Linked DNA regions of Homo sapiens: all the other regions are linked to region 2. Evidence: fine-mapped expression QTL. A gene starts in region 2. Each other region holds a variant in brackets. All regions are shown on one strand. Distances are between the middles of the regions.

Evidence for each region. PIP is the estimated chance that this variant, and not a neighbour inherited with it, causes the effect. A credible set is the group of variants that fine-mapping cannot tell apart.
Region 1: its variant is the best candidate, but not a certain one, in a credible set for the expression of PTPN14 in prefrontal cortex (GTEx, PIP 0.60).
Region 3: its variant is the best candidate, but not a certain one, in a credible set for the expression of PTPN14 in tibial artery (GTEx, PIP 0.76).
Region 4: its variant is the best candidate, but not a certain one, in a credible set for the expression of PTPN14 in fibroblasts (GTEx, PIP 0.64).

The regions. Positions count from the first base shown.
Region 1 is chr1:214,423,512-214,431,538 of GRCh38, forward strand. The region is part of intron 3 of PTPN14 (protein tyrosine phosphatase non-receptor type 14); the gene reads right to left. Among named protein-coding and RNA genes, the nearest start is that of PTPN14, 120 kb to the right of the region's middle. RefSeq lists an enhancer at 4,369-4,418. The variant T/A (reference allele first, on the strand shown) is at 4,575.
Region 2 is chr1:214,547,716-214,555,742 of GRCh38, forward strand. PTPN14 (protein tyrosine phosphatase non-receptor type 14) reads right to left here and starts at 3,887. Exons shown (of 19, transcript NM_005401.5): 1 at 3,468-3,887. RefSeq lists enhancers at 2,550-3,371, 3,372-4,192, 4,193-5,013.
Region 3 is chr1:214,347,867-214,355,893 of GRCh38, forward strand. PTPN14 (protein tyrosine phosphatase non-receptor type 14) reads right to left here. Exons shown (of 19, transcript NM_005401.5): 19 at 834-8,027. Among named protein-coding and RNA genes, the nearest start is that of SMYD2, 71 kb to the left of the region's middle. The variant T/C (reference allele first, on the strand shown) is at 3,404.
Region 4 is chr1:214,357,901-214,365,927 of GRCh38, forward strand. It overlaps PTPN14 (protein tyrosine phosphatase non-receptor type 14), which reads right to left. Exons shown (of 19, transcript NM_005401.5): 18 at 6,612-6,775; 19 at 1-150. The coding sequence ends at 22. Among named protein-coding and RNA genes, the nearest start is that of SMYD2, 81 kb to the left of the region's middle. The variant C/A (reference allele first, on the strand shown) is at 3,411.

The DNA.
Region 1 (8,027 bases), 120 kb before region 2:
AGCCAAGCCTAACTTTAAACTTTGGTTGATGCTTTGTTTACTGGCCAGTCTAAATTTTGAAAATTTCTAATTGCTGGCTTCTAGGCTTTCGTGCTTCATCACTGCAGGTGCCCCTACTCACCCCATGCTCTCTTAATCACTGAAGGCGCATTTTCTCATATTCACAGCTTAAAAATATCTGAGTACCTGCAGGGCGTTGTGGCTCATGCCTGTAAACCCAGCACTTTGGGAGACCGAGGTGGGTGGATCATTTGAGGTCAGGAGTTCAAGACCAGCTTGGCCAACATGGTGAAACCACGTCTCTACTAAAAATACAAAAATTAGCCAGGCATGGTGGCTCACGCCTGTAATTCCAGCTACTAGGGAGGCTAAGGCAGAAAAATCGCTTGAACCTGGGAGGCGGAGGTTGTAGTAAGCAGAGTTCGCGCCACTGCACTCCAGCCTGGGTGACAGAGTGAGACTCAGTTTCAAAACAAAACAGTAACAACAAAAAATCAGAGTACTGGCCGGGCACGGTGGCTCATGCCTGTAATCCCAGCACTTTGGGAGCCTGAGGCAAGTGGATCACAAGGTCAGGAGTTCAAGACCAGCCTGGCCAAGATGGTGAAACCCCATCTCTATGAAAAATACAAAAAGTAGCTGGGTGTGGTGGCGGGCGCCTGTAATCCCAGCTACTCAGGAGGCTGAGGCAGAGAATTGCCTGAACTTGGGAGGTGGAGGTTGCAGTGAGCCGAGATTGCACCACTGCACTCCAGCCTGGGCAACAGAGTGAGACTCTATTAAAAAAAAAAAAAATCAGAGTACCACACAAGTAACCCATATTAAAAGAACGTTTGAAAACACAGACATAACAAACAAACACAAAAGCTGGATGGAATGTTTATCAGAAATAGCAAAATAGGGGCTATCTGCTCAGAAGTCAGCAATATGAGAGATAATTCGGAGATCCTGCTGGATGACTTTAATTTCCATAGCATGGACCTGTGGTGAGACAATTGAGTGGGACACCCCACTTTCTTTCTTTTTTTTTTTTTTAGACAGAGTCTTGCTCTGTTGCCCAGGCTGGAGTGCAGTGATGCAATCTTGGCTCATTGCAACCTCCATCTCCCGGGTTCAAGTGATTCTCCTGCCTCAGCCTCCCGAGTAGCTGGGACTAAAGGTGTGTGCCACCACACCTGGCTAACTTTGTTTTATTATTTTTTATTTTTGGTATTTTTAGTACAGATGCAGTTTTGCCATGTTGGCAAGGCTGGTCTTGAACTCCTGACCTCAGACGATCTCCATGCCTTGGCCTTCCAAAGTGCTGGGATTGCAGGTGTGAGACACCGTGCCCGGCCCGCCCACCCTACATTCCATGTGGCCACTATGATCCATGTTCAGCCTCTCCCCAATCACAGCAATTTAATATTAAAGATTTTATGCATTTGTAATGATAACATGCCTATCCATCTCTGTTTTTTTTTTAGTAGAGGCAGAGGTTATGCCACGTTGGCCAGGCTGGTCTCGAATTCCTGGCCTCAAGTGATCCACCTGCCTCGGCCTCCCAAAGCGCTGGGATTACAGCCATGGGCCACCAGGTCCATCCAGCCCATCAATCTCTATTTAGCACCCTACTAGCCCAGAAGTACCTTGAAGGCGGGAACCACCTCTCTCTATTCTACAATTCACAGACTCAGTAGATGATCCTAGACTTGGTAGTTGCACAAAAAGCATTATGATCATTTACTGACTCAGAGACACCCAGTGGGTAAAAAAGAATGCTTTTCTGGAAGTTAGCCACCCAAATAGGTGGCATAAAACAACACTGGACTCAGCAGAAAGAAAAAAACAAAATCACCTACACTCTAGGTATTACATAATATAAAGCCTTTCCCCAGTCAACAAATTGGAATAACTCATTCCGCCCTCTGTGTTCCCATTGATTTTGTAACTCTAACATGGTACTGATCAAACAACTTAATTATGTGCATCTATTTTGCCTCCTTTGCTGTTTTATAAGACTGCCTTGTTCATGTCTGTATTTCCCCCAACAGACCGCCTTACTATGCATTCACATTAAAGCAGGATATTATTATGGCCACATATTTAAAAGACAGTCAATTACATACTGGCTGAAAGAAACTTTACGTTGTTCCTAGTGTACTATGAAAAAAATAATAAAAACACACCACATGTCTATCAAAAGCTTTGGAAGAACTGAATTCTCCACAATTGGAATTTTTATCAATTTCTCTAGATATTAAGAAATCAGAGCCTTCAAATAGTTATTAACAATGATAGCCCTTTGCATTTGCGCAGTTGTTTTCCAAGAATTGTCATGTATAATATTTCCTGTCATTTAATATTCGCAACAACCCTGCAAGATAGCCACTATCCCATTTATCCACGGGGAAACGGAGGCTCCCAGGGGGTAGGTGACTTGCCAAGTCTTCTGATTTTACAGTCAAGTGCTCTTTTATTACAACATTGTGCCTGTGTAGTAGGTTAGTCTATAGTTTCTACAATCTGGAGCATAAATCGCAAAAAAAAAAAAAAAAAAAAAAAAAAGGAAGGAAGAAGAGAAAAAAACTACAGAAGGCTATAAACAGATCACAACATGAATCCATTGACAACATAATGAATTTTTAATGTTAGAAATGAATAATTTTCTTTTGCAGAATCTTCAAAGCAGCTGAAGACATCAAATGTGGCAACAACTGCCAGAGATAAAATACCAAACCAGCAAACATCTCACTGCCCAAGAATCTAGTATCTTCCTATGCTGTGATTTCTGCCAAAATCATGCTTGATATTTTCAAGCATGGAAATGTCTCTCTACAATTCTTCCTTTCAAACCCTTCTTGAGGCTCTAGGATTAAAGGAGGAGATACTTCATTTGTTAAATGCAATTTAAAAATCATTTTGAACATCCTTTCTTCTTTTAGAGTTTTAGTTTTCTAATTGCCTTAGTTTCTACAAGACCATCTTTTATAACTCTTGACACATAGTAAACTTTAAGTTAGAAACTGTAACTTCCTAGAGAAAAAAAAAAATGATGGCCAAAGTGACAAGTAACTACACATAAATATAGGAAACCTTTTGTTTAGGACATGGGTAGAGGGATGGAGGATTGCCAAGCAGAGAACTATAATTCCCAAATCAGAGAAATTCTTCAATTCTTTCATTTCATGAAAGAAGGCTGCTACAAACACACTCCTCCTTTTCATCCTAGACTTAAGAACTTAAAACTCTCTCATTAGAAACCAGAATAGGAGCGCATTAAATGTCTCTTTAGGAACCAAAAATTCAGGGGCGTGAAGCCCAGGGAAGATGCCAGTGTGGGGCAGTCAGTGGCTGTACGGGGCACACCCTGCGGGCATCAGGCCATATTCAAAGGAGAGCACTCTCCAGAAGAGAAGTACTAAGTAGGTATTCAAATTCTCTCTTTAAAAACAAAAATAAAATAAAAAAATCTCAGCAGGCTTCTCCTAAAAAAAATTATGATTACAGGCCAGCGTGGTGGCTCACGCCTGTAATCCCAGCACTTTGTGGGGCCGAGGCGGGCGGATCACAAGGTCAGGAGATCGAGACCATCCTGGCCAACCTGGTAAAACCCCATCTCTACTAAAAATACAAAAATTAGCCAGGCATGGTGTGCATGCCTATAGTCCCAGCTGCTCGGGAGGCTAAGGCAGGAGAATCACTTGAACCAGGGAGTTGGAGTTTGCAGTGAGCCGAGATCGTGCCACTGCACTCCAGCTTGGCGACAGAGTGAGTCTCCATCTCAAAAAAAAAAAAAAAAAAAAAAAAATTATGATTGCAGAAAATATAAGGCCTCCTATAATTTGTTAATGTTCATGAAACCAGCATAAAATGTATTGAATAGAAATCATTATAAAAGCTGTCAGATTCTATTAAATTAGTATAATGATTTCTTATCCTTTTATAGTACTTTCATTTAAAAAGTAAACCAACTTAGTTTACTGGTAAAATATCAGAAGTATATACATACATATATTCCATTATTTATTCATTCATATTTGACAAAAGCTTAATGAGCACCTACTACATGCCAGGAGTTATTCTAGGCACTAGGGATATCACAGTGAACAAAACAAACCCATTCTCTGCTCTTGCTCATGGAGCTCACAGTCTAGTGGGGAAGACAAGCAAAAATCAAGTAAATAAACAATAGGTCCAATGAGAAAAAAGCAGGCAAGAGACACAGAGAGTAGCAAGGTAGGAGGTGGTCAAGAAAGGTTTCTCTAATAAAAGCGAACTCTGAGCAAAGATCTGAAAAAAAAATGAGGAGCTAGCCATGTGGATATTTGGGGGATGGAGGTTTTCACTTCAAACAAAGGGAATGGCAAGTAGAAAGGCTTTCAGGAGAGCTAGTGTCGTGCATTCATGAATGTTCAAGAGGTCAATGTAGCAAAGAGTGAGCAAGAGGATGAATCGTTGGGCTGACAGAAAAGGCAGGAAGTGGTACAAACCACAAAAGGCCTCGCAGGGCACGGTAAGGGTTCTGACGACAGTAAGATGGGAAACCAGTGGAAGGTACTGAGCAAAGGAGCTGCATAAACAGGCACCCATTT[T/A]ACAAGATGGTACTGGCTGCTTTGTAGACACTGGACTGGGAGGGGCAAGGGTGGAAGCGGAAATGCCAGTCAGAAAAAATGACAGCAGACTGGATTAGAGAGGTTACAGTGGACGCAGAAGGAAGTAGTCAGAATCCAGACATATTCTGAAGGCTGGATGTGGTGTATGGGAGAAAGAATTCAAGGATGACTGCAAGATTTTTGGCCTGAGCAACTAAACTAAACCTTTCAGATAAAGACTTCTCACTTTTTGAAAACTGACAGACAAAACAGATTTGGGGGAAACGGATTTGACTGTCTTCTAAAAATTATAACCACATAATCTTTCATTAAAACCTACATATTCAAAATAGTCATCAAACCACGTCAGTCAAACATTTTATCTAATCATTTTAAAAGAGGAAGTATCTTTGATATAGTAATGGATTCTCCCTTTTCCTTTTTATCATCTTCTTCCTCTTCCTTGTCCCTCAAATCCTCTGCCTATTTTTGTAAAAGAACTATCTTTATAGAACGAAGTCCACACATATTTCCCTCTGATTTCTATTATTTGACTTTTGAGTCCAGATTAAGAATGGCAAAGAGACCATGTAGTAAATGTGCAGTGAATAAGTGGACAGGTGGTAGGAATCAGGAAATGAAACACTGCTCTCACCCAGGGTTTGGCAAAATCTCTGGAAGGCCCAAATAAAGGGTATTTCCTTTCTTCCCACTTGAGCCCTATTATCAAACCACTACACTTTAAAAACATCATCATTTTTTGTAACTTTAAAAATGGTCTTTGCAGTATAACTTGATCAAAAGGCATGCACTAAAAAGATTGGGGAGAAAAAACAAGTTTGTGCAATTAATAATATAGTTACTAAGCCATGCATTTCTGCCATCTGAAGTTTCTTGTTTCTATGAAAACTCACCTAGAGCCACCACCGACTTTACATTAGTAAACTAAGTCCAGTACATTTTCCTCACAGAATGAAATCCCAAATATTGCCTCACTTTTTCATGTTAGCCCGTTCCGTATAATTTTCATGAATTCTTAAAGGCATGACCATGCTTATAGACAGGATGATTTCCTCATAAAAGTCATGATCACAGATTTAAGTCTAAAGAAGAATATGATCATAAGTATATGCAAATAAGAATAAACATAATGGACTCCTTTATAGTTTACCACCCAGAAATAGATATGTTCACATGACCATCTTCTATATGTTTATTATCTTCTCAGTGAAGGAGATCTGTAATAATATTACATGAAAACAAGCTATTATTTAGTATTTAAAATGCATTGTTTCACAATTGTTTGAGAGAATACAATTTGGTAGCTGATTTTGATGATTCAGATAGCTAGAGTACTACATGCTTTTATAATTCTTAATTTGAACTCTGTAAAAACATTGACAGTCATAAACTACTACAAATATTTGAAAAAAGGTGACTTTCAGGAGATCAAGGACTTCATCTGTTTTGTTCAGTGCTGTATTACCAGTAACCAGAAGTTTCCTTGTATATAACAGATGCTCAGTAAATATTTATTTTTTTATCCCCCAAATGGTCTTCAAGTAAACTTATTGAATGCATGCATGAACAATGAATGAAAAATCCTTGATATTTTGCCCAAAATGGGCTGTCCAAGCCAACTAGAATATTAATTATGTAAAATTGTGTTAAGTTACACTACTTACTTCATGCTAAGGATCAATATAGGGTATTTGACAAAATAATTTTAGGAAGTACTAAAGGTAGATACATTTTTTCAAAACAGGGTTTTATGAGAAGAAAGAAAAGGAATTTATTTTATAATGAACATACTGGGAATTCTAGATTAAGAAAATATTTTTCCTTAATGACCTCATCAGATTAAAATTCTAAAGAAGAAATTGCATGACTTAGTTTCAAGATACAGAAGGAGATTTCATCCTGTGAACGTGTGACCCAACAGTAATAGGGAAACCTTGAACTTTAAGAAATTCTTTAGCTGAAATATAAATCCAGGGCTAACTGTGCTACGATTATTTGCTTCCTACCACATTCTAGGTATCCTTGAGGACTTTGCATTGCAATTTTCCTCCCCTCTTACATAATTTCCTTGGCTCGGAATGTTCTCCCTTCACACTTTCCGCTCATCCATCAGTGAGCCCTTGATACTGATGGGAGCTACCGCTTTAGGTATTTGGGAGAGATAACAGGCTTATAGCCCCTGGTCCAGGCTGTTTTCCTGCCTAACAATGCTGACTCACCAAAATCCAATGTCTTCTTCAAAGCCCCAATTCCAGGGACATCTCTTGTCATGGTTAATTTTATGTGTCAATTTGGCTAGGCCACGATATCCATATATTTGGTCATTTTTCTAGATGCTTCTGTGAAGGTATTTTTTGATGAGATTAACACATTTAAATCAGTAGACTTTGAGTAAAGCAGAATGCTTGTCACAATATGAATGGGTCTCGTCCAATCAGTTGAAGGTCTTACAGAGAAAAGATGGACCACGCAGAAGGAAGAATTTGTGTTTGGACTTGAACTTCAATCTTCCCTGGGTCTCCAGCCTGCTGGCCTGCCCTGCAGATTTTGCATTTGTCAAGTCTCTCCATTTATGTGAGCCAATTCCTTAAAATAAGTTTCTCTCCCTATTTACATATACATCTCATTAGTTCTGTTTCTCTGGAGATCACTGAATAATGCCCGTCTCCAAAGCTCCTCCTTATCATTCCACCCATGAAAGGTACCTTCAGCTGGCATCCAACACATACTAATATGTTGCTCAAATATTTTTATGTGACCATCTAATCTACCCAAATAGATTGAAAACCCCATTCAGGACAGGACTGACATCTTGTGCCACTCTATATCTTGCAGAATACCTTATACTTTGAAAATAATTAATGTGTTGAATGAATGCCCAGAGGTGAGTCTGGAAGGCAAAGGAGGCTTCTAAGGCAAGAAGGAAAGAGGAAAAGGGAGATACTTCAAGTACTGCAAAGAGCAGAGGAAGAAGTGAGAAACCCAGGGTGTCCAGAGACATTGAACGGCACAGACAAGTAAAATAGGGCTATGTAAGGAAGCAGAAGACAAAAAGGAAGACAGAGGCTTGCCATGCTTCAAATGCCTCTGGATGTCTGTCTTTATCTTCTAAGCAATGGTAAGACATTATGTATTTTTGACAAAGGAAGGAAAATGATGAAAGCAATCCTTTAGAAGGATGCTTTAGAGTTGGTATGTACACCACATTATATAAATGGGTGGTACAGATACAAATTGGGAGGTCAAATAATAATGATGATAGTGTTAGGTACTACAAAGTGTGCTTTTCTGTTTATTAACCAGTATAATCTTCACAAGAGCTTCTGTTCATGGAGAAACTGAGTCTTAAGAAGGATAAATAACTCACCTGAACATACAAAGAGTGAATGGCAGAGCAGAATTCAAATCCAAGTCTGTCTGACTGTAAAGCCT
Region 2 (8,027 bases):
ATATAAAACACTGGACCATCATTACAGTAAGAAGTATACAAGGAAAAGGATCTTGTTCTCTGCCCTTCTAATCTCTCAGTGGCTTTCCCTCCTCAAACTTCTCTACTGCCTGGTCCCCCACCTCTCAATTTCCTCTTGTAGGAGGAGCCACATGGCAGCTGCCAGCCAACATGTTTATTTTGAGCCAATAGACTGAAAAAAAAAAAAAAGTCAAAAACAAAGCTTTATGTGTATGTTGACACACATGTGAATTCAGGCTGCTGAAAAAAATCACACACAAAGAGCACATTCATGGCCACATACAAGTCCTTGAACATATAAATAGCCATCCTTGACCTATTCTGTGTGAGGTACTGTTATACAGCATGACACTGAATTCTCCATACATATCCTGAGAGGCCAAATGTTACCAGATCCATTTTGCAGATGAAGAAACTGAGGCTCAGAAGGGCTATGACGTCCATCCAACATCACACAGCTAAAAAATGGCAGCGCTAGAATTCCAACCTAGCTATATTTCAAACTCCCAAACCTGGACCGCCTGCTCCAGCACACTGACAGCCAGGAAAAGCTACAGAATTTGCCACACATACCCCTTGGACCACTCAATAAGCCCTCCATGGGATGCATACAGAGGAAGCGTAAATTAAATCAATTTAAATCCGTAAGGGGAGATCCAAAAGCGTATTTTAACATTAACTTGAACCTCCTCCCTACCAAAGCTTTCGTGTTTGTTTTCCCTCATTCCTTAATTGGCTAATTAAGTATTTCATCTTGTCTTTCTCATGCCTTATCTCTAACAAAGCTCACAGCACTGTTCTCAGGCTTAAAATGAATTTTTTAAAAACACAGCATTTGGTGACTAAGTAATGAAGCTCAAATGCAAGAATTTGATGAAATCCTTGTTCAAAAATGACAAGAATATGGAACCCAGGGGGGCTATAATATGTAATCAAAGGGTTGATGTTTGCTTCCCCGGAGCAAATTTAAACCTCTAATAAGGAAGGAAGGCACTGGAAAATAAAAAATCCTCATAGTTCTTGACACTTAGCCCATCCGTTCAGGGCAAATAAGAATTATTCTAAAAATTCTGATTTTTCTCTGAATTCCTTATGGTGCTTCCCTATTAAAAGCCTAACTGTCCTTTCTATTACAGCTACCAGCATGACACAGTATGCACAAATCTGAATAACTCAAGTGTTAATAATAATTACATGTTTAAGCCAATGATGGAAACTGGGCAAATGTCTGGGATTAGTGGGAGTGGGCTTCTCTTCAGCCATTTCTCTCATGCAGGTCCCTACACCTTCAGGAAAACTTCTGTGAAGGGGCTGTTCCTGAGATAAGAAAAGATGCTGGTAGAGGGGCTTGGATAAACACCCAAAGTTGTAGGAAGTCAGTGTGTTCTTCCCACTCTGATGTACTGGCCTGAGGTCACCAAAAGCTGGATGTCTGCCACCTCAGCCAGGACTCAGCCACTATGAACAATACTACAACACCACTTCAGTCCAGTGAAGAGACACCCTTGAAAGGCAAACCACGTACAGAATGCTACTGCATTGTAAGAAACTTTTCTAGGCAGGATTTGCTGAATCCTGGGCCATTAGTCTACAAAAATGTGCAAGATAGTGTTTTCTATTTTCATAAAGTTTCAGAGAAAAGAACGACTTTAGCACAACTGTGCTAAAGCAATAGTAATGACTTAAAAGCAGAGAAAAGTATAACAAACTTAGTGACATACAGATGAACGAATTTTGCACCTCATGGCCACCCATTCAGACTGGGCAAAAAGGGCATCATGCCATTCAGCTCCCGCTCATTAAGGCTGTCATTTCTATGGCACAAGCTTCAACCTCATCACCAAACAATTAGCTAACTTTATAATACAAGGTCCGTAATGCTGCGGTATTACCACACCTACGGCTGTCAAACAGCCTTTTTAAAAAAGGAATCATTGCTTGAATGTGGGGGACAAAAAAGAAGAATCAATACCATTTTAATGAAACCGAGCATGGGCCAATTAAAATGTAGATGATCATACAACAGCTGCTTGTGGTAAAACAGCAGCAGGCATGGAGGTGTATCCAATTAGGGAGGCCTTGGCTCCTCGGTAAGCTACTTGTGGTTCCCATAAGTGGCTAACGTGCTTCTAGATTTATTTCTGATATTGGGGGTGGAGAGAATGCTATCCCAGCAACACTGCACCAACATGGCCATAAATGCCCCTCAGGCCCCCAGATGGCTAGGGAAACTTTCTGTCCTTCTTGTGTTCACTCTGCACGAGCTGTTTCCTCTGCCTGGAATACACCCTCCAGAGGAGCACAACCTCTATCCTCTAAGTGTAGTGCACCCTTCACCAGGACCAAGCTCGCCTCAGACTCTCACAGAACCCCTCTTCCATGTATTATCATTCTTCACCGGCCTTCAAGTTTCCTCCACTAGGCTGCAGACTCCTGCCCTGTGATCTCATTTAGCATCTTTCTATCCTGTTCCTAGCAGAGTAGAAGCTGGGTTTGTTGGATGAATGAGTAAACTAATCCATTTCAAGAAGTTAACACATTGGTGGAAACTCTGTAACTGCCCGCACCTGCAGTCTAGAGATTCCTCACCTTCACAAAGAACCTGCGACAGCCAGTCCCTAGACTTAAGCGGAAACCCCACAATTTCTGAAATTGTAGGTGGGGATGAGAAGGTTGGAGAACAAGAACCCAAGGAAGTGAGAGGGAAAGGGAGATAGGGGCAGCGTTACCTCACTGCTCTCTCCAAACGAAAAGGTGTAAACCCCATTTACAAGTATTCAAACCTGAGATCTGGGGGTCACGTGGGGAAGGAGAGGCTGTTAATACCTACAACTTTGGAAGTTTGAGGTGAAGACCTGATCTGAAATTGTTTGGCCACAGCTTTTTTTCTACGAGCCAGCTCGACCACCCAAGTAGGAGCCTCGACGCCCAGGAGTTCGGTGGCACCACTGGGGCCTAGTGAGAGGGCAGGAAAACTCCGCTCCCCTCAAGATTCCTTCCCGGTGGTGGTGGGGTGTGATTGGGAGCGTCGGGCAGCTGCATCCCCCTACCGCTGCAGCGACCGCGACGTCGTTCGTCTTTCATCCTCTAGCCCCCAAGGTCTAGGTATCTCTAGTTGCCCTTCCGAGGCCCTCTCTCGTTCCCAAAACGCAGAAGGGAATGGAGAGAGGGGACCAGGGTGTGGGTTTAACCACAAACTCCCCAGACTGCGCTCACCTTCCAGCTCGCTCCCGGGACCAGCTTTGCGCCTCACCGCGGGCAGCTCCCACCGCGAGATAACACCCCTGCGGCCCGGCCACCCCGCGCCCCAGGCTGCCCTGCCAGGCGTCCCGGGGCGCCAATCGCAAGTTGGCGTTGCCAGCGTCTGCCCAAGTCATCTGCAGGGCGCCCGGAGCGCCAAGGCGGCCTCCAACCTCGGGCCCAACTCCCGGCTTGGACGGGGCTTACCTGCTTACATGGCCCCCGTGGCGCCCCGGAGTCCCGCGCGGAAAGGCTGTCCTTCGCGGCGGCGGAGCCGATTCCCCACGGAATTGATTCCAGTGACTGGCGGAGGAGGGGCGAAGGGAAGGAGCCGCAGGAGGCGAAAGGGGAGGGAGGTTTCCGCCGCGATCCCGGCGCGAGAGTCCGAGCAGAGGCGCACCGGGGGAGAAAAGGAGAAAAACCTAAGCACGGGGCTGTCCCGCCCGAGGAGGCCGGGGAGGATGGCTCAGCTGGGAGGGGAAGGAGCGCCAGTGGCCACTTGATGTCTGTCTAGGGCTCCCCGAGGACCTGAGCCAGGAGAGCAGGCGGCTGAGCCCGGAGAAGCACAGCAACCTGCCCCCGAGTCTGCGCCCGCTGCGCTCACTCCGCCGAGAAAAAGTTGGAAAGAACTTTGAGGGGCCGGGAGAGCCAGAGCGGCAGGAAATGCGAGCGGCCGGGAGAGGAGGGAGGAAGGGGCCGTGCGAGTGGGAGGGGACGGAGCAGGCGCCGGCGGCCACGGCTCCCCCACCCCAGAGCCGGGCTCCGCGGCCCTGGGGGCCGGGAGGCGGAGGGAGCGCTGGGCGCGCGGCCGGGGGCGGGGAGGAATGCGGCCCGGGAGGGCGCGCGCCGGGGGCGCCGCGGGCGCGCGCTGAAACGTGGAGCCCCAGCTCCCGAGCTCCCGAGCTGGAGGCGCGCCGTCCTTGGGGACGTCACAGCGCTGGAATCCGAGGAATGCCGGGCTGCAGGAGCTCCTTCTGCAGGCCCGGAGAAGTCGCACACTTTTAATGGGGTAGTTTTGGAAAATGTTTTAAAAGGTGGGGGCCGAGGACGGAGGACCGGATGAAACTCCCTGGAGTAAGAGACGTGGAAGTGGAGAGAGCAAGGCGACCGCAGCCACCCCAACCCTGGGCTGCTCCCGCCGTTGGGGAGAAAGAGGCAAGGCAAGGAAGAGCCCACCTAGACTTCCGAGGACCGCAGAGACGGGGCGGCGGCAGGAACTTGCTCACCCCGACCTACATTCAGAATAGTCCACCTTATATTGGGGAACCCTCCAAGCAGGACGTTTCATGCAGCCACCCCACAGGGGAAAACAGACCAGGAGAAAGTAAGGTGGCCTCACCAAGTAGGCAATCTCAGAGATCTCTCCCTAGAATCTCTGGGTACTGGACCCGGTGTCTTAGCCTTCTCTCCCTGCCCCCTCCCGCCCCGTAGGAATGATAAAAAGCAGCCTGTGTGCTGAGAGTTGGAAAATGTCGTTTTCCCGGTTTGTTCCATGCCACAGAATCGCCCCACCCTGCCTGGGTAGGCACTGGGAGGGAACTTCCTTAGCACTTTCGGAGGTGGAGTTAATGAGACGCAGCTGGTATGATGGAAAAAGCTCGGAGCCAGGCGACTGAACCTGGGTTTTAGGCCCTGCCCGATTGGATAACTGAGGAGTATCCCAGCCCCTGAGATCCTAGGTTTCTGTAGCTGCAAAATTAAATAATTTGTCTAGATTTCTGTGGTCCTTTGCATTGCTACAAACATGTCTTGGGATTTATCTCGGTAAGATTCCAGTCCTTTGTTGAAAAGGGACCTTGAAGTCGTTGGCACACAATGTATTGTCCCAAATCACTTCAGTGTCCGGCAACTCATGCAAAAATTCCTGGCCTCTTGGGGAAGAGAATTGGAAACCAAAAAGCGCGGTGGCTCACACCTGTAATCCCAGCACTTTGGGAAGCCAAAGCTGGGGGATTGGCTGAGCTCAGAAGTTCGACACCAGCCCGGGCAACACGGTGAAACCCCGTCTCTACTAAAATTCAAAAAATGTTTCGGGGGTGGCGGCGTGCGCCTGTAGTCCCAGCTACTCTGGGGCTGAGGCAGGTTAATTGCTTGAACTTGGGAGGCGGAGGTTGCAGTGAGCCGAGATCGCGCCACTGCACTCCAGCCTGGGCTACACGGCCAGACTCCTCTCAAAAAAATAAAATAAAATAAAATAAAATAAAATAAATAAATCCGTAGTGACTCTGATTTTCTTCGAGCATCTGCCAATCTCTAGAACTGTAAATTAGAGAAAACGCCGAGTGCAATGCAAAAGTGATGGAAAGAAAAGGTTGAAGGGAAATCAACTTTCTCACATTTTAAAGGAAATAGCTGTACAGACGTGCTGGGTTTCCAAAGAAAACATTAGGCAGTGCCTGACTGTGTTCCAGAAAGTGTGGAAAGCACTCCCCCATTCCTAGATGAGGAAAGTGAGGCATGAAGAAATTACCTGTCTCACTGAGGGTCATACAACTAGGAAGATATGATCAGGGCCCTAGTCTGTCAGGCCTAAAGTGCATGCTCTTCATCTCTTTGAAATTGGACCCAAACAGGATTAGGATTAAAGATAAGAAAATGCCTTCAGGATCTCAATGTAAAACTCTGGCCTTTGCTCTTTCCTGGGAGATGGGAGACCTCTTGCTTGGTGTCTTTTCTAGTGAAAAGACACTAGGAAATATATTGTGTTGCTCTAACATCACTGTGCTACCAAACTGAGCACAGCACCCTGAGGCTGTTGTGGCATAAAAGAAGCAGCAAAGGACTTGTTGTCCTTCTTGGGCAGACACAAGGGTTCCGGTTCTGCCTCTGACCAGCCTTGGGACCCTGATCAAGGCACTTCACCTCTAGGCCTGAATTTATTTTCTAAGTAGAGTGTGGCAAAGAGGGCAGAGCTTGGTTGGAATAGTTCATCTCTGAGGTCTTTCCCAGGACTAAACTTCCATCAAAGTACTCTTCTCCAGATAGATGGCATGCCTGTGGAGGAAGCTAAGCAATAAAGCCAGTGGATAAAGCCAGTGTCTGGGGACAGGACTGTTTTCACACCGCCTTCAGATGAAAATGAATGTTGAGACTCCAATGAATGTGGCTGAGTGTTCAATGATAAGTAAAGCTAAGATTTAGCACTAACCCTGTGGACACATTTTAAAAATTTAGATAATTTTACTTACAGGAAGACAGTCTGGGCAACATGGCGAAACCCCAACTCTACACAAAATACAAAAATTAGTCAGGTATGGTAGCTCGAGGCTTGTAGTCCCAGCTACTAGAGAGGCTGAGGTGGGAGGATTGCATGAGCCTGAGAGACCGAGGCTGCAATGAGCTGAGATCACACCACTGCACTCCAGCCTGGGTGACAGAGTGAGATCCTCTCTTGAAAAAGAAAAAAAATATGCGTTATTAACTTAAAAGCCTATAGAGTGTATCTGACTAGCCATATTTCTTTTTCTTTAGAATAGATCACAGAAAGGCAATACAAATAAGAATATTTTCTAAGGCCGGGCGCGGTGGCTCACACCTATAATCCCAGCACTTTGGGAGGCCGAGGCGGGTGGATCACGAGGTCAGGAGATCGAGACCACAGTGAAACCCCTTCTCTACTAAAAATACAAAATTAGCCAGGCGTGGTGGTGGGCGCCTGCAGTCCCATCTACTTGGGAGGCTGAGGCAGGAGAATGGCGTGAACCCAGGAGGTGGAGCTTGCAGTGACCCGAGATCGCGCCATGGCACTCCAGCCTGGGCGACAGAGCAAGGCTTCGTCTCAAAAAAAAAAAAAAAGAATATTTTCTAAATAGAAAGTACAGCTTGAAGTGACAAAAACCTTTCATTCTCAGGATAAATATATAAAAGCTAGTTTCAAGCTTCTTTCAAAAAGAAAAAAGAAACCCATTTCCTAAATCTTTGTCACACTCAAGTCTCCTTATACTACATCAGGGTGAAAAGGAATTCGACTCATGGAATAGGTCCTGAACACATCACTACATGTTTGCTTTAAAGCTTTGCAATTGTAAGAACTTATCAATATTACATTTCTCAAAGCAATTACCAGATTCTTATAAGCCCAATTCAAACTACAAATACAAAGAAGAATCCCGTGGGCTTCCACAATTCCTCCCAGCCCCAATGTGTTCCTCTCATTAATGCATTCATTTTACACCTTCAAAGATGCTGAAGCCACTGAAAGCAGAACAAGTTCCCCAAATCAAAGCCAACTGGAAAGTAAGCCTGCTTTGTTAAGAAAACTCTGATGATCTCTAGGGGCCTTTTACAAATTTTTAAGTTTTATATGTACATGTATGTATATAGTCCAGCTTAATTCCAATTCCTAAAAGGATGTTTAGCAACTTGGAGTAATGGAGAGAAGTGGGAAGCTTTTTCAAATATACATCCTCTCTGAATCCTCTGCTTCTGTATCTTATGCCCTGGGTCTAGGGTAGAGATGGGTTATGGTGGGAGTTGGGAGGAGTGTAATATTTTTAGACAGTGTTTTAGGAAGATACAATTCACATTCAATAAAAAGCACAACTCTTAAGTGTAGATGCAGCTTGAAGACCTTTTCATGTGTATACATGCATGGGGCCACCACCCAGGTCAAGATATAGAAAACGTCCATCTCCTCAGGAAATTCCCTTGTGTGACTTTTTAGTCAGTATCACCCTTCTACCACCATGGATTTGTTTTGCTGGTTATTAAACTTCATATAAATGGAATCATATTTGTGTGTGTGTGTGTGTGTGTGTGGTGTGGTGT
Region 3 (8,027 bases), 200 kb before region 2:
TGTATCTGTTCTCCTGCCATTCTACCCGATTTATCTCCATTTTCATTGGCCTATTTTGTCTACTATCATCTTTTTTAACATTATGTAGCCTTTCTTTCAATAATTATAATTGCTTTGTTGCCACAGTCACCATAGAGAATTAAGTGTATGTTTAATGAGATTTGCTTGCCATATCCTCTCACCCCAGAGTGGCTTACAGTATTCTCATTTTTTTGATGTGAAACTAGTTGGGATCTCTGGTAGTTCAACAACTGCTTGTATAGTCATGGGGTTGTCAATGCATTACTGGGAGAAGTTGTTATACTTTTCTGTTACTTACCAAGGATACATAAAGCATCTACCCACATATGAGGGGTTCACCGTGAATGTGCTATGGTGGTTACTGGCTGAAAGTCTGGGACAGGACAGCCACCTTTAAACCTGGACACAAGTTGAGCTGTTATAAAGCTGAAAGGCAAAAGCAAGAATTTAAATTTTCTACAGCAGCCTGGTTGGTGCCTGCCTTTTCCACATCAACAGTTTGGTACCTGAGTAAATGACAGTGAAGGAGGAGTGAGTAGGGGCTTGGAGCTTAACGAGGCTTATTGCTGCATTTGTGAGAAAGACCCATTTCTATGTATTCTTCACTCCACTTGCCTAGTGATCACCCCTTTCAGGTTTCTTCTAACAGTGACAACCTTGGGAATTTCAAACTAAATCTTCAGTATGATAAGGTTATGCAGGACTAAAAACTGGGTAGCAATAAATGGGCTTTAGAAAACAAAGCATGCAGGTTTTCCCAGGCACTTTCAACTAATGCAAACATATACAGTACAGAAAAGAGAAGATGTAACTTTTCTCTGAAAAAAAGGTTTATTGCATATGGAAATCAATAGATATCTTTTACAAAAAAAGGTTAGAATAAAGATCTCACATTTGTAAAGGCACATATGAAACATTTTATAGCAAGCACAAGGGCAGTGAGAACATCAACAAGGTCCAATATCTAAATAAGACTTTATAAAAACAGATAGGAAACAGTGCAAAAAATACTGTCAAAGTCAGTTCTATACACCTCATAACTGTGTATACAACTGGCAAGCATAAGCTTATTTACTGATATAAAATAGCACATAGAATAGCATGCATAGTTTTATTTTAGGCTTTTCATATTATTAAATTGATAGGGAGTCTATACCAAAGTACAGTTGACATGAATAGTGATAAAAATCACTCCCCAGCTTAGGGAATGTCCTATAAACATCTCACCCCTCCCTCTGCTTACAACTACAGTTTGGTAGTAAGGAGACTGGGCTTCCATCTTGCAAGGTGGCAAGCGGCCACCACAGGGGGCGAATGTGCTCTCAGGATCCCAAGTCCCAACCTGGAATGCATTTCTTACGGCAACAACATAAGAGATGGTGATTAAATGTCTGGGTCAGCCCACAAAAGCCAACCAGATCTGGCTATCACAGCCCTCCATTTGGGCTGTGGTGGAGGTCAGTGGGCTTCTATGGGCTGACGCAAGAACCTTAAGAACAAACCGGTTTCTAAGTTGGGGACTTGTCTGTACATCGTTTCAAAATGAAACCTAATAAATGTCATTTGTTTTGAATGATACCAAAATTCACAACATTTTGTGAAACAAAGATCAAGGAAAGCATCAAAATACTGAAGTAGGGAGCACAAGCCTAGTCCAGTGAAACAAACTAGATTAGCTTGTTACTTGATGTAACACAAGTTACATAAGGTTACACATTTATTAGTAATTTGCATATTTAAACCTTTTTTTCCACTGAAGTATCCTCAAGCACATTAATTAGCTATTGAAGGAACAAAGGACATACATAGGAACTCATCTCTGATGAAGAGTAGCTTTATGTCAGAAAGGAGAAGGCTAATGAATTTTTAAGATTCCAAACAGTGGCAAGAAAGTTCAAAGGAAATTGCAGTAAAATTGTACAATGTTCAAGTTGAAAAAAAAAATGGCTCTGAATTACAGCATTCAGTTCTATGCTCAAGGTATGTATTAGCTAACACTGCAGTTGTCAGAGGTGGGAGGCCCCTGAGAAATGCTGAGAATGCCAGGCACCCCAGTTCTGAGAGCCACCCTAGCTAAACTCAAAGCAGCATTCTTGAGATTTTAGCAAAAGGCTCCGCCCCAAGCCACAAAAAGATCCCAATCCAATCTTTTCAGCTTTATCCTCTAAAACCTTTTGTCAGATGAGATAGCATTTGTGTTTCCCAGGAGGAGAAGGTTGGGGAAGAAAATGAAGATAGCTTACATACAGATTTTGGATGACCCGCTAATCTTTCCCCTTCCTAGGTAAGTGAAAACAGATAAAATGTTTCTGGGCAGCCCAAAGGTTTACCACCTGTTTCACTAGAATGGCCAGTCTGTGTAAAGAGGCTATAATGACGAAAGCATTTTCCCTGCAGGGAGAAGCTAGAAACAAATGGGTCTTCCTATACATCAGTCTGCCAAATGCAGCCTCTCTCAATCTATATAAGTTCACCTCGAAATACATATTAAGTACTGCTGTCATCATTGTTTTAAACAGAGCGTCTTTCATTTTTTCTAATAGTGACTGATTCTATCGGCAAGGGAACAAAAGGGTGAGAAAGGGAGCTTCCTGCTTGCTGAGTTTTCTAGCTATTTTCATTCTGGTTATTTTCATCCGCCAGATCTTTTTTTTTTTTTTTTTTTTTTTTTGAGACAAAGTCTCACTCTGTTGCCCAGGCTGGAGTGCAGTGGCATGATCTCGGCTCACTGCAACCTCCACCTCCCGGGTTCAAGCAATTATCCTGCCTCAGCCTCCTGAGTAGCTGGGATTACAGGCATGTGCCACCATGCCTGGCTAATTTTTTTTTTTTTTTTTTTTTTTGTATTTTTAGTAGAGACGGGATTTCACCATGTTGGCCAGGCTGGTCTTGAACGCCTGACCTCAGGTGATCTGCCTGCCTCAGCCTCCCAAAGTGCTGGTTTGATTACAGGTGTGAGCCACCACATCTGGCCATTTGCCAGATCTTATTCTTTGAAACTATACAAGCAATTTTTAAAAAATTAAAATAAGATTTCCTAATTACATATTTCTGAGAGGTTTAAGGCAATGATTCTCTGACGAGGATTAACTCTTACATCTGGGTTGCACTCATAGGGTAGGTAAAGAAAAGAAAAAGTGTACTGTTGAGAGTTGATCCATAAAGCAGATGGGGAAATATGAAAAGGCAGCAGAGGCTGGGTGTAATCCCAGCACTTTGGGAGGCCGAGGGGGGTCATCACGAGGTCAGAGGTTTGAGACCAGTCTGGCCAACATGGCAAAACCCCGTCTCTACTAAAAATATAAAAATTAGCCGGGTGTGGTGGTGCACGCCTATAATCCCAGCTACTTTGGAGGCTGCACTCCAGCCTGCGCAACAGGAG[T/C]GAGACACGATCTCAAAAACTAAAAAAAAAAAAAAAAAGAAAAAGAAAAAAAAAAAGGCAGCAGACCCTAAGTGAACAAGGTGCTCATGGAATGAAGAGGGTGACAGCACACAACAGTCCCACCCGTTCCCCTGAACAAGACAAGGAACACCAAAGTCACTGCATGTACATCCCAGTTTTGTGGCCTGAATAGAAACATGACTTGCTCTAAAGGGGAATGTCCTCTGCAGCACCTCTGAGATCACAGGGGAGAAGAATCAAGAAATCCAAGAGCCGGGGCTGCTAACTCTGGGAGCCACATGGGTAAGCAGAATGCTCTGCTAACAAGCAAGGCAAGGAAAGGCTGCCAGCAGCAGGCGAGGGAAGATGGTGCTTTTGATCAGCAAATCCAGGCAAATATGATAAACCACACATCATAATCCATGACATTCATCAAGCTCTACCTCAACAGTGAAGACAGTTTAAAACTATGAGCTAGGGTGAAATAGACTCCAACACTGCTGCAGGCTTTCCCTAGCATGCCACTTGGTGGTTTCCATCACTCTGACATTACAGAAAGGGAGGCAGGGAGTAGGAGAGGCATTCCAGAGTTCAGAAAATTATTTGTGAAACAGAGAACTTTTGGATAGCAACTTCAGGACTGATGCAAAAATCCTTCCTCTCCCTCTTCCCATTTATAGAAACTTTTGAGCAAGTTTATGGCACTTCTGGGAAAGAATGATCCTGATGGCCCAAAGTGTGGCAGAAGGAGCAATGACTTTCCACACAAATGCTTGTCATATTCAGGCTGCCCAGTAGCTCCAGCCCTCCTGCCTTGTAACTCAATGTCCTTGAATTTATTTTTAAAATGGGAAGGCTAAAAACAAAGCTGCAAACGGTAGGAACTGATGCACATCCTCTTCTTTACTGTACCAAACAACAATCATTTTCCAGTCTATGAAATTGATGGATGCCAGACACTCAATGCTAGGCTCATGGACATTTTAATAGAGAATATCTTAGTTTGGCTTTGAGAAAGAAGATGCAGCTATATTAAGCTGAAAAGATAAGAAAGGTAGTCTACTGAATAAAAATACTTACCTATCTGAGTTTCTAACAGAAACACAAAAGCTGAGAGCAGGCTGGATAAAGGCTGAGTGTTGATGGCGCAAGCTGGTGGTCAAGTTTCACAGGGCCCCCTGAATAACACTGACTTCTGGACAACACATTTGAGGTGGCAGAATTTGATGAGATTTCCCCCACATTTCTCCCTGGCACGTTGCTGTTACTTTCAACAGACGCCATCTGTAAGGTCCTTTGCCCCAAAATGTCTTAGAAGCTTAAGTAAAGACAAGAACTATTTTGCTTCCTTGCTCAGCGTTCAAGAGAAGTATCAAATGCAGTTTAACATCTTACAGCTTTATTTCCACCCTATAGGGCCAACTAGTGTGCCAACCATAAGGCTGTAGGCCATTGGAGAATTTGTGTGGTTTCTACAGAAGACCCAAATTTCTCCATTTGGAAACCATGCTGGATGAGCTGTTGCTCTGCTCATGAAAAGAAATCACTAAATAAGAGCATGATGAGTGTCTCAAAACCATTGGCAATATAATAAAACACAGCAGCAGAATAATTGTTGGTAAAACATGGGAATGCTCAATTCCCTAAAAGGGCTACCCTAAGAGCCCAACAGTAATTATGTGGTGCTTCCGGAAATGTCTTACTCTAGGAGCTCCACAGAGTTATTTCTGACACTGAGTAAGAACACAGGTCTGACTCAATCCCATCCCTTGAATCTGTGCTCCCTGGCACACATCCTAGAATGCCCTGTACCCTCCATCCCCCCAACCCCCGCACCTCAAGGGATTGACAGATCTTCCCCAAACGAAAATCAGTAACGAAATAGTTGTCCTTTACCAAAGGGGGCAATCAAGGACCCTCTGAGAATACCAGAATCCATGGATGTTCAAGTCTTTTATATAAAATAGCACAGTATTTGCATATAACCTATGCACATCTCTTGCATACTTTAAATCATCTCTAGATTATTTACAATACCTAACTCAATGCCTACACATCACTTCATTTGTGTGAATTCAATGTAGTATTCAGCATGTGGCAAATTCAACTTTTGCTTTTTGGAACTTTGTGGGTTTCCCCTCTTCCCCAAATATTTTTCAATCTGTACTTGGTTGAATATAGGGATGTGGAACCCACAGATAGGGGTGGTCAACTGTACTCATCTTCACCATCGAATACACCATTAGATGGGGAAAGGGAGACTAGAAGGCACATTCTGCTTTTTGACAAAGGACACTTTTGGGACCCATACGTCACGTAACAAGTAGGCTGAGGTCAGCTAATACAGACTGTTCATCGGGAAAGGACAGCAGCTAAAAACTCCAGAGTGATATGCCTGATGGCCAATCCGGCTTAAGAGAAGCTGCAGTGCACTATCTACCTCTGCAACTTCCATGTCCCAGGAGATGGCCCATTCACCAAGTGATGCAAGGATCACTATGAGCAGGGCAGCACGTTCGTGAAAAGAGCTGGGCCACCCAGGGTATACCTTTTGTGTTCATTAGCACTGCTCTGGAGAAATGACATCTGGTGTTGGGACCCACAGTGTATCAGGGGGAAGATATAGGTGATCCATGCGAGTACTGTCTATTTGCAGAAAATATGGTCCATTATTGGAAATTTCATATGGGTCAATCTATATTAAGCTGGAAAAATAATCAGCTGGATGAAAAGGCCAGCCTGCTGTACCCACTGGAGTTTATAACTGAAAAGCACAAGCTGAAAGAAAGCAGGATAAAGGTTAAGTAGGTGTAAGCCATGGTCAAGTCCTACAAGGCCCACCCTCAGCAGTCTACAAAGACCCTCTCTTCAGGCTGATGAAAGAGGGGGCCAGAGATGGCCAAGTGACTCTTAGGAAAACAATGACAGTTTAGCTATAATTTTAAAAAGCGGTTCCTCTTCTCAATCTACAAAATTAAAAGTAAAATTCTCTCAATTTAAGCTCCTCAAAAGCTTACGATTCAAAATATTCCACATAGGTATTTTTACCTTCCCTGATCTTATTGTTTAGCTCCGACTGAATATTGCAGCTCATTCATCTTTACTCCTATGTAATCAATGTTTAACATCCTTTTTTCATGCAACTAAATCCTCCTTTACTTCCTATCTGGGGAAAGAAGTGCATACCAATGTCTATGCTATCTGTAAATGCTACCAGATACTCTTGCTAAAAGATGGTATATCCAGTATATCCTTAGAACCCAAGGAAACCTAAGAAACCTCAGCAGGACATTCCTCAGCTAAGCCAGCAGGCTCATCTCAAGGATGAAGACATCAAATTCAGCCCCCATGATTCAGGGACCACAGTAAACAAGGATGAATACCTCGGGTCAATGTATCCAAATGAGTGTGGATGAAAGAAACCAAACAGTTCAACTGGAAAACCTCGAAAACAGCGGCTGGAAAATGTTTGATGGCTTTGTTGTGAGATGGTAACTTTTTTTTCCTCCATTTTACATTTTCTCCCTTCAAATCCAAACTGCAGCAATAGACACTGACAGCTCCAGCTTCAGACTTGATACATCATCAGGAAATCATTCCAAAAGCTCTAACTAGATAACTAATTTAATACACTTTGCTTCAAGGTTTATTCCTTGGCTTGCTTCCCAGATATAAAGCATCTCTGGGCAATTATTATGCAGATGCCACCGAAAGGACTTTAAATGGCTGCTGCTAATTTAACAGGAGATATGTTGGCATTTACTGGAGATGTGAAAAGGAATGCAAAATGTGCTAAAGAACCAAAGGCATTTGTTTTTAAAAGTGAAATATGTGGAACAACTCTTAAATGTTTTCTTTTGGGTTTCAATATAAACTTTGGCTAGAAAGTTGAATATTAAACCTACTTCCTCCCTGCATTTTGTACACTAATGAATATTCCCGTAGCATACGGCAGGGACAGTGGATGAATTTCAGGGAAGCCCATGAGCTCTGACGACCTCAAAGACGCACCAGATCTATATGCTGTCCACATGAGACATATTCTAACAGTGCCCACCTTGGGGCTTAGAGATAAAAGATAAATACTGATGTTGTTCATCACGCAATAAACCAGTAACTGAGACCACTTGCTAAAACATCCCTAACAGCAGAATATCCCAAGGATGGAAAAACCTCCAAGGAAAGGAAACAAGTATCTTTTTGCTTATTGATGAGCTTCTTATAATAAGGGTTATAAGCTCTGTTCACTGAAAATACATGTAATACTAATGGGTTTCTTTCCAGGACATACAACAAAACTCCAGAATCTACAAAGATCAGCAGATTATACTCCTTCACTGAGCCTTCAGACCTTGAAGTAGAAGACACAGGGGAAGCCCTCCATCCCCAGATATTCCGAGTCTAACTAGAGTACAGCCACCACAACACCTGGCCAGGTTGAAACAGAGGATTCCTATTCCGAAGAACTTAATGGGGAATATATACCTGTTGGCATGTGGTGATGGGATGTCACAAAGGCATACTTTTTCTGGTTGATTTGATGTCACTCCATCTTTTTAGCTCACGGGGGACAAAAGCAGCAATGAAGAAAGGCATATGGAACTCTCACAGCAGTCAATTCTAA
Region 4 (8,027 bases), 190 kb before region 2:
CCAGGAGCTGGATTGGGGTGATTAAATGAGTCTGGAGTTTTGGAGGAACTGGATGAGGACTTGGTAGACAAACTTGTACTGAGCGATAGTCTGGATCATGAACATCCTCTGCTCCCTGAGGAGCCTCAGCATCATGGGCACTTCCACCTTCTGCAAGAAAAGAGAGAAAGCACAAGGTCCTGAGACAGGAGGCTTCCCTTTGAGCATTCCTCATTCCCTCATTCAGGAAGCACTCACCCACTGCCCATGTCCAGGTACAAGAGAAGGCAAGGGACTCTGCCCTGGCTGGGTTTTATGCATCAAACAGTTTATATCAGCAACTGGAGAACCTGGTCATCATGTGTCACTGGTGGGATATTTTATTTTTATTTAATTTCAAATTTTCTGAGAGGGTCTTGCTGTGTCACCCAGGCTGGAGTACAGTGGCACAGTCATAGTTCACTGCAGCCTTCAACTCCTGGGCTCAAGCAGTCCTCCTACCTGAGTCTCCCAAAGTGCTGGGGTTACAGGCGTGGGCCACCACACCTGTCCTGGTGTATTATTTTGAATACAGACTAGTCTGCTGGTTAAAACATAAAGGCTGGAGTTAGACCTGAATGGTACTCTCAACTCCCCTGCAACCCAATGACAGGATTTAAGACCTCTCAGGGTCTTAGTTTCCTCATCTGTAAAATCAGGATAATAATGCTTTCCTCTAACAGCAGTGTGGCCTTGCCCTAGTTAGTTACATTTCCTCAGCAATAACATGGGGTATGAAATAACATTTGCCTCATGGGATCAAATGATGAAACACATATCAAGCATTTAGTGCACAGTGAGTGCTTAATAAATATTACTCATTATTCCTTTTTTTTTTTTTGAGACAGAGTTTCACTCTTGTTGCCCAGGCTGGAGTGTAGTGGTGTGATCTCGGCTCACTGCAACCTCTGCCTCCCAGGTTCAAGAAATACTCCTGCCTCAGCCTCCGGAGTAGCTGGGATTACAGGTGCGCACCACCACGCCCGGCTAATTTTTTGTATTTTTAGTAGAGACAGGGTTTCGTCCTGTTGGCCAGGGTGGTCTTGAACTCCTGACCTCTGGTGATCCGCCCACTTAGGCCTCCCAAAGTGCTGGGATTACAGGCGTGAGCCACCCCGCCTGACCTCATTATTCCTTTATTAACATTAATAAATGTTATTAATGCAATTATAATCTCACAGGACTGTGGTCATGATCAAGTGAGATAATTTAAGTGTAAACCTTTAAAATGTCAAAGCGCCATCTCTGAACACCAGTCCTACTTGGAGTAAAAGCCTTCAACTGAGAACACTTTTTTTCTTTTTTTTTTTTTTGAGACGGAGTCTCACTCTGTCTCCCAGGCTGGAGTGCAGTGGCTCAATCTCTGCTCACTATAACCTCCGCCTCCCAGGTTCTAGCAATTCTCCTGCCTCAGCCTCCTGAGTAGCTGGGATTACAGGCACGCACCACCATGCCTGGCTAATTTTTTTTTTTTTTTGTATTTTTAGTAGAGACGGGGTTTCAGCATGGTGGTCAGGCTGGTCTCGAACTCCTGACCTCGTGATCCGCCTGCCTCGGCCTCCCAAAAGTGCTGGGATTATAAGCGTGAGCCACTGCGCCTGGCCGAGAACACCTATTTTGAGACAGAGTCTTGCTCTGTAGCCCAGGCTAGAGTGCAGTGGTGCGATCATAACTCATTGCAACATCAACCTCCTAGGCTCAAGCAATCCTCCCACTTCAGCCTCCTGAGTAGCTGGAACTACAGATGCACACCACCACACCCGGCTAACTTTTAAAATTTTGTGTAGAGACGAGGTCTTACTCTGTTGCCCAGGCTGGTCTCAAACTCCTGAGCTCAAGTAATCCTCCAGCCTTGGCCTCTAAAAGTCTTAGCATTATGGGCATGAGCCACTGTGCCTAGCCTTGAGTCTTAAATGAGAACATTTTGAGTATTAAATGAGATTGCCTATGTGTGAATTCTTTGAGAATATATACGATGATATATACTATCATTAATGAAAGGAAATTAATTCAGTGTCATGGGTACTTGAGCAGATCAGAGGCTGTCACAGTGTCCTCTCCCCTCACCTTCACCATGTCCATCCTCCTGGACTAGCCAGGACACATACGGCTGGAGCACCCCTGAGCTGTGGAGGCCATGGTGGCCTCAGCACATTCACTCTGCTCTGGGAGCTCTTAACCCAGGGCAAATGATGGCACCCAGGAAGTTTTCAAGGGCTAAGCAAGTGTTTAAAAGAAAATAATAAAAACTCAGCTGTATGCCTGACTTTGTAACCTTTGAACCTTAAAAAATAATTTAAGCTATTTCCAAGCCGTGTATAGGTATGACATGACACGTGCCATCAGTCACTCTTGTTCAACACCAACTAAGGAATGCATATCACAAACTTGCGACGTTGCCTGGGCTAGAGTGCAGTGGTGCAATCACAGTGGTGCAAAGGGACAAAGTCAAGTCCCTGCCTAATAAGAAAAGAAAAAAAAGGCATGTGAATCTTCGAACTATGAATCAAAATACAGAGCCTAGGTTATAAGCTTCTGACAGTAACAAGTAGGTCTCTGCCTAAATTATATTGCAAAGTGACCAGTATAAGATGTGACCTAGAGCCACCTAATAATGAACTTAATTTCATGTTTGATGAGGATTACTCTGCGGTTGGGCACTGAAGATAAAAGAATAGAGAGAATAAGGCTGTTCCCTCCCCTACCCACCAAAGGTTTTAGCCAGGAGGCAGGATCACACTGGTGTTCAGAGCACAGGCTCTGAGTAAGGCTTCATCTGCTGAATCTCAGCTCTACCACTTCTTGACTGTGGGAAGTGGGCACATTACTTCATTTACTTATGACTCAGTTTCTCTTCTGTTATGTGAGGATACTGATATGGTCTTGGCTCTGTGTCTCCACCCAAATCTCATGTTGACTGGAAATCCCCAGTGTTGGGGGAGGGACCTGGTGGGAGGTGATTGGAACATGGGGGCAGATTTCCCTCTTGCTGTTCTTGTGACAGTGAATTCTCATGAGATCCGGTTGTTTAAAAGTATGTTGCACTTCCCCCTTTGCTCTCTCTCTCTCCTGCTGCCATGTGAAGACGTGCTTAATTCCCCTTTATCCTTCCACCATGATTGTAAGTTTCCTGAGGCCTCCCAGCCATGCTTCCTGTACAGCCTGCAGAATTATGAGTCAACTAAACCTCTTTCCTTCATAAATTACCCAGTCTCAGGTAGTTCTTTATAGCAGTGTGAGAATGGACTAACACAGATACTAACAGGACTTAGCTCACAGTGTCACTGCAAAGGCTACTTGTGTTAATACTATCAGGCTCTTAGAATAGTGCGTATACATGGTAAACACTAGACACAAGTTAGCTGTTACGATATTATTTTCAATGTTGTCAC[C/A]ATCACCACCTCCTCCACCACCACATCCTCCTCCTCCTCCTCTACCATCATCCCCATCTCAATTACCTGTAGGACTGAGCCTAAATGACAGTATATTGTCTGATATGTTCAAGTCTGGGGATATGACAAAGAAAGTTCTCCTGGTCTTCAATGAAAGGGTCCCAGCTGGCTTAAAGATTCATTCACTCCCACAGGCTCTGCTCTTAACTGCCCCCAAGCCAAGGAAGCACAAAGCAGTTGACAATTGCTCAATCTTGTCTAGAAGACATTTTCTCCTCCTCACTTTATGAAGGAGGTATAACTTACTCAGAAAAGCAGCAAGATCAAGACATCTGCCCTTTGGCTACTGAGATCCTGACCTTTTGTAATTAGCTGTAGCTGGAACAGACAGCTACATCCAAGGGACTGAGTGTCCTGCAGACCATAAAACGAGTGCTTTCTGAAAAACTCTATGCACCTTAAAAAGTCTCAGCTAACACTCAGTGACCAAAAGCACTGGGCCACAGGGAGGCTTCCCAGAGCAGCCTGGGACAGCTGTCCCCACTCCCCACTGCACAGCTACCAACCTCATTGTAAGTGTCTGTGTTTCATTGTTTCTGCTCAACTTTTCTGTGTTTAGAATGAGACTGAGAGGGACAAGTCCAGGAAAAAGAAAGGCCATTTCATTGACAGAATTAAAACTGCATGAATTACAGACTAAAATATAAAGTATGCTAAATCCAGAAGCTGTGGAAAGAAGGCAGGGGAGTTTGGACAGGAGAAAAATGGTCCCACAATTTAATATATATTTGTTAAAATCTTTGCTTGAAACACAAAATAAACTAAACATGGTCTACTCTTCTCCTGAAATAGGGGCTTGGATCTTACTAGCCAGGCCTGAACAGTACCAGAACAAAAGGAGAGCATTTCTCCCCGCTAACCATCTACCAATAGCAACCATGGGAAATAGGACAGATAAGACTGGCTATATTTGTGCTAGGGGAAGAGAAGTGAAAAATATGAGTCATCTTGCTATCTTTGAATATCAATGGGAACAGAAGTTCTTTTTGGGTTGACCACGTCCCAGCAAAGAATGTTCTGGCATGCAGTTGGGCACTGAGGAAATCCGCTATGTTTGGACACACCATAGAGCATTTAACCACCCTGAGCCTTCACCAAGTCCACAGGAGGCCACACTGGCCGAATCCCTTACTCCAAACTGTTCCGGATTTGATATGCTTGTCTGTGCTCTGCCAGACCAGTAACATCTGGTGTTCAGTGAGCCCCCATGTCATTGCCTCACTGAGGCTCAGCCTTTGATGGGTCTCCAAAGAGCTCAGAACAGAATAGTCTTTCGTGTCAGACAAGACAGAATGGCTTCTTGAGTTGAAAAGGGGAAGTAGGGAGCGGAGCACAGGGAATGGGGAAAGAAGTGGAGTGGCCAGGCTTACGCCTGTAATCCCATCAACTCAGGAGACCGAGGTGGAAGGACTACTTGAGCCTAGGAGTTTGAGGCCAGCCTGGGCAACATAGCAAAACCCTGTCTCAAAAAAAAGAAAAAAAGAAAAGAAAACAAGGGGGGAATTTGGTGACAAAAGTGATATGAAGGGAAGGAAAGGACGATTAGGTGGGGAAGGTGATGATGAGGCCCTCAAGCCATGCACACACTGATTCTACCTCATCTTATTTTGTCTTCCTAGCAATGGATGGATTGAGACTCAGTGGCAGGTTACTCATTGTTCTAGAGATTTCTAGAGACCTCTAGTAGTGATGGGAATAGAGAGGCAAACAATAAAAAAATCCTATGTGGGGCAAAATGGTAAAAACTCAGAGGGCAATGACATTTCTGTTATGTAGTCTCAACTGATTCCATGATGAACATTTCGCTCAAGCTTTGTTTTATGTTTTTCTAACATTGGGCTACAGTTGGGATTGCCCCTTTTCCAATTTTTAGCAGCACAAACATTCATTCCCATGGACAGACTGGAAGATTCTCAAAATTATCTTTTCATGGGCAGAGAGTTTAATGTCTAAGCTTAGCATTCGTTGTTTTCCTGGATGATTCAATATGACAAACTTCATGTAGCAATATTTAATCTGATTTTCAAACGATTCATGCTATTGAATAAATAGGTATATTATCATATAAATTCCTCCACAGAGTTGCAACAAATCATTCTGTAATTTAAAAACTACCAAACCACAAGTTTCCTTTAATTTTTCAAGCCATATAATTTGAAAACTGAGTAAGAACCAAATCTTACTCAGCGTTTGGAGGCAGAGTGAAGACAGGAAATAACTCTGGACCCAGACACAGACCTTGCTTCTGGCTTCAGTACCACTGCGTAAGAGCCACATGGCACTAGACAAATCATGTAATTATTTCTGGGCCTCAGTTTCCTCTTCTGTGAAATAGGAAGAGTGACATGTTCATGGCTCCTCTACTTGGCTGATATGGCAGGCAAAAGCCCCTTAAAACTTCTAATGTCCCACGTAGCTAGAAGGTAGAACTATTCCTTAGCTTTTGACTGCTGTTTGTCTCACCTACACAAAATTGAAAGTCTCTCAGTGTAACTCCCTAATCCTACAGCAGCAAAGGAATGCCACGCACCTTGTGTGCACAGGCTCAGCAGCACCCCACTTCTGCAGGGAGAAGGGGTAGGGTGACCCGCTGATGCAAAGACGGGGATGTTTGCGTGCTCAAAGTATCTACTCTGCTCCGCTACACCACGCAACAACCAGACTAGACAAGCAAACAACCCCTCAAACCTCACTCTGAAGAATGAAAAACATTTTCCAAGTAGACACATTTTCACCTAGCATTTAGGCCAGAACACATCCTAGAAATGCAAGATGCATCGAAACTATATGGGGTCAAATAACTCACCATGGAAAATTACCCACAATAAAACCAGGCTATCTACAAAATGCCAAAGACTTCTGGAAGTAGATGCCGCCTAAGATCACATTTTCTAAGTGTTTTCTATTGCACACCCTCATTTCTCCTGTTTTATCTGGGTATCTACACGGAGCAGTGGGAGGGCAAAAAGATAAGGAGGGCTGTAAATGTCAGAGTCAAACTAGGAACCAGGAGCCTGGAAAACTCTGGTTGGGAGACAGGAAATTAACCACTGAAAATGCAAGGGTGCAGGCAAAGGTTTGGCCAGGGTGTAGACTTGTCCCCAAGGTGGAGTATCCGGAGAGAAGCCCAGAATGACTCACTTCGTTATGTTCCAAGCAGTAGATCATCAGCTCAGAAAGAATGAGCACGCCGGTCCTTCCCACCCCAGCACTACAGTGGACCACGATGGGCGGGTGCCGGTTCTTGGTGCCTTCCAGCATGCTGTTGGTATGGCGACGGACCGACTGGATCTCCTCCAAGTAGGCTGCAGGACAAAATGCAAATTCTGTCACCAAAGTCCTCCATGGCTTCGCATGTAAGTTGGGGAGGGGGGAGCGGAAGAGAACTGATGGTGAGTGTGTGTGTGTGTGTGTGTGTGTGTGTGTGTGTGTGTGTTTTAAGTGACAATAATTTATAGTTCTTACAAGACACTAATTATTTGGCTGGTACCCAATGTACAGTCCTGGATCCAGACAGGACCAGCTGGGAGTCAATTAGTTCGTGGGAGAATTTGTTCTTTAAATTAAATAGTACTTTTTTAAAAATTAAATTCTGTTTTCCCCTCTGCAAATCCCTAAGTCCCTCAAGCAGATGATTCTAGACATTACTTACAGCAATTCCTGCTATTAACAGACTGGGATCAGAACAACTGCTAAGTCCCCTTGAAACGCCCGCCTGTCAGAGCCAATTTCTGGTGGGGAGAGAGCATCCATCTGCCCCTTCTTCCTTCCCCTCACTGATGAGTGAATGTCAACTGAGGCTTGACTTCATTTTTGGGTTTTAAAGTAGACTTTGGGGAGTCTGCTTTTCAGCATGGATTCCACGGGGCTATGTGAGTAGCCCAAGATGAACCCCCATTCTGGAGGCAACATGTGTGTGAGGTGGAGGGGGTCATGATACCCCCCATGCCTTCTAGCATCTGCTTGGCTCAGCAGGGCTGTGCAGGGAGGGGTGCGTTCATGACTCCAATTAGGCACAAAAGAAAAATCACAGGATTCCAAGCCTTAATGACTTTTTCACAACCATGACAAAAGAGAAAAGTATGGAAATGTAATCCTCAGACACTCCAAAAACCCCCAAAATGTAATTAATAATTTAGATTTTGTAGTAGCTCAGGACAGAAACAGGTTTAAAGGTTCTTGATACTCAGTGAACCTCATCCTAAGGCAAAAGTGTAAACCAGACTATAGGGGAAATGTTTACATTGTTGAAGAGAAAAAAGTAGGTTTGAACCATTCAAATAATTTCAAAGCACCTGTTTACAGACATATATAAATAATCCATACTTTCCTTTATAAACTTATCTAATTACAAAATAATCTGAAGTGCTTTACCAAAAAACCAAACTATTATTATCACTACTACTACTACTACGATGATGATGACTAGTAGTAGTTATTAGTACTAGTCATAGCAGTACTACTAGTAGTAGTAATGTACAATGAGATAGGACAAAATAAAAAAGAAAGAAGGGCTGGGCTCAGTGGCTCATGCCTATAATCCCAGCACTTTAGGAG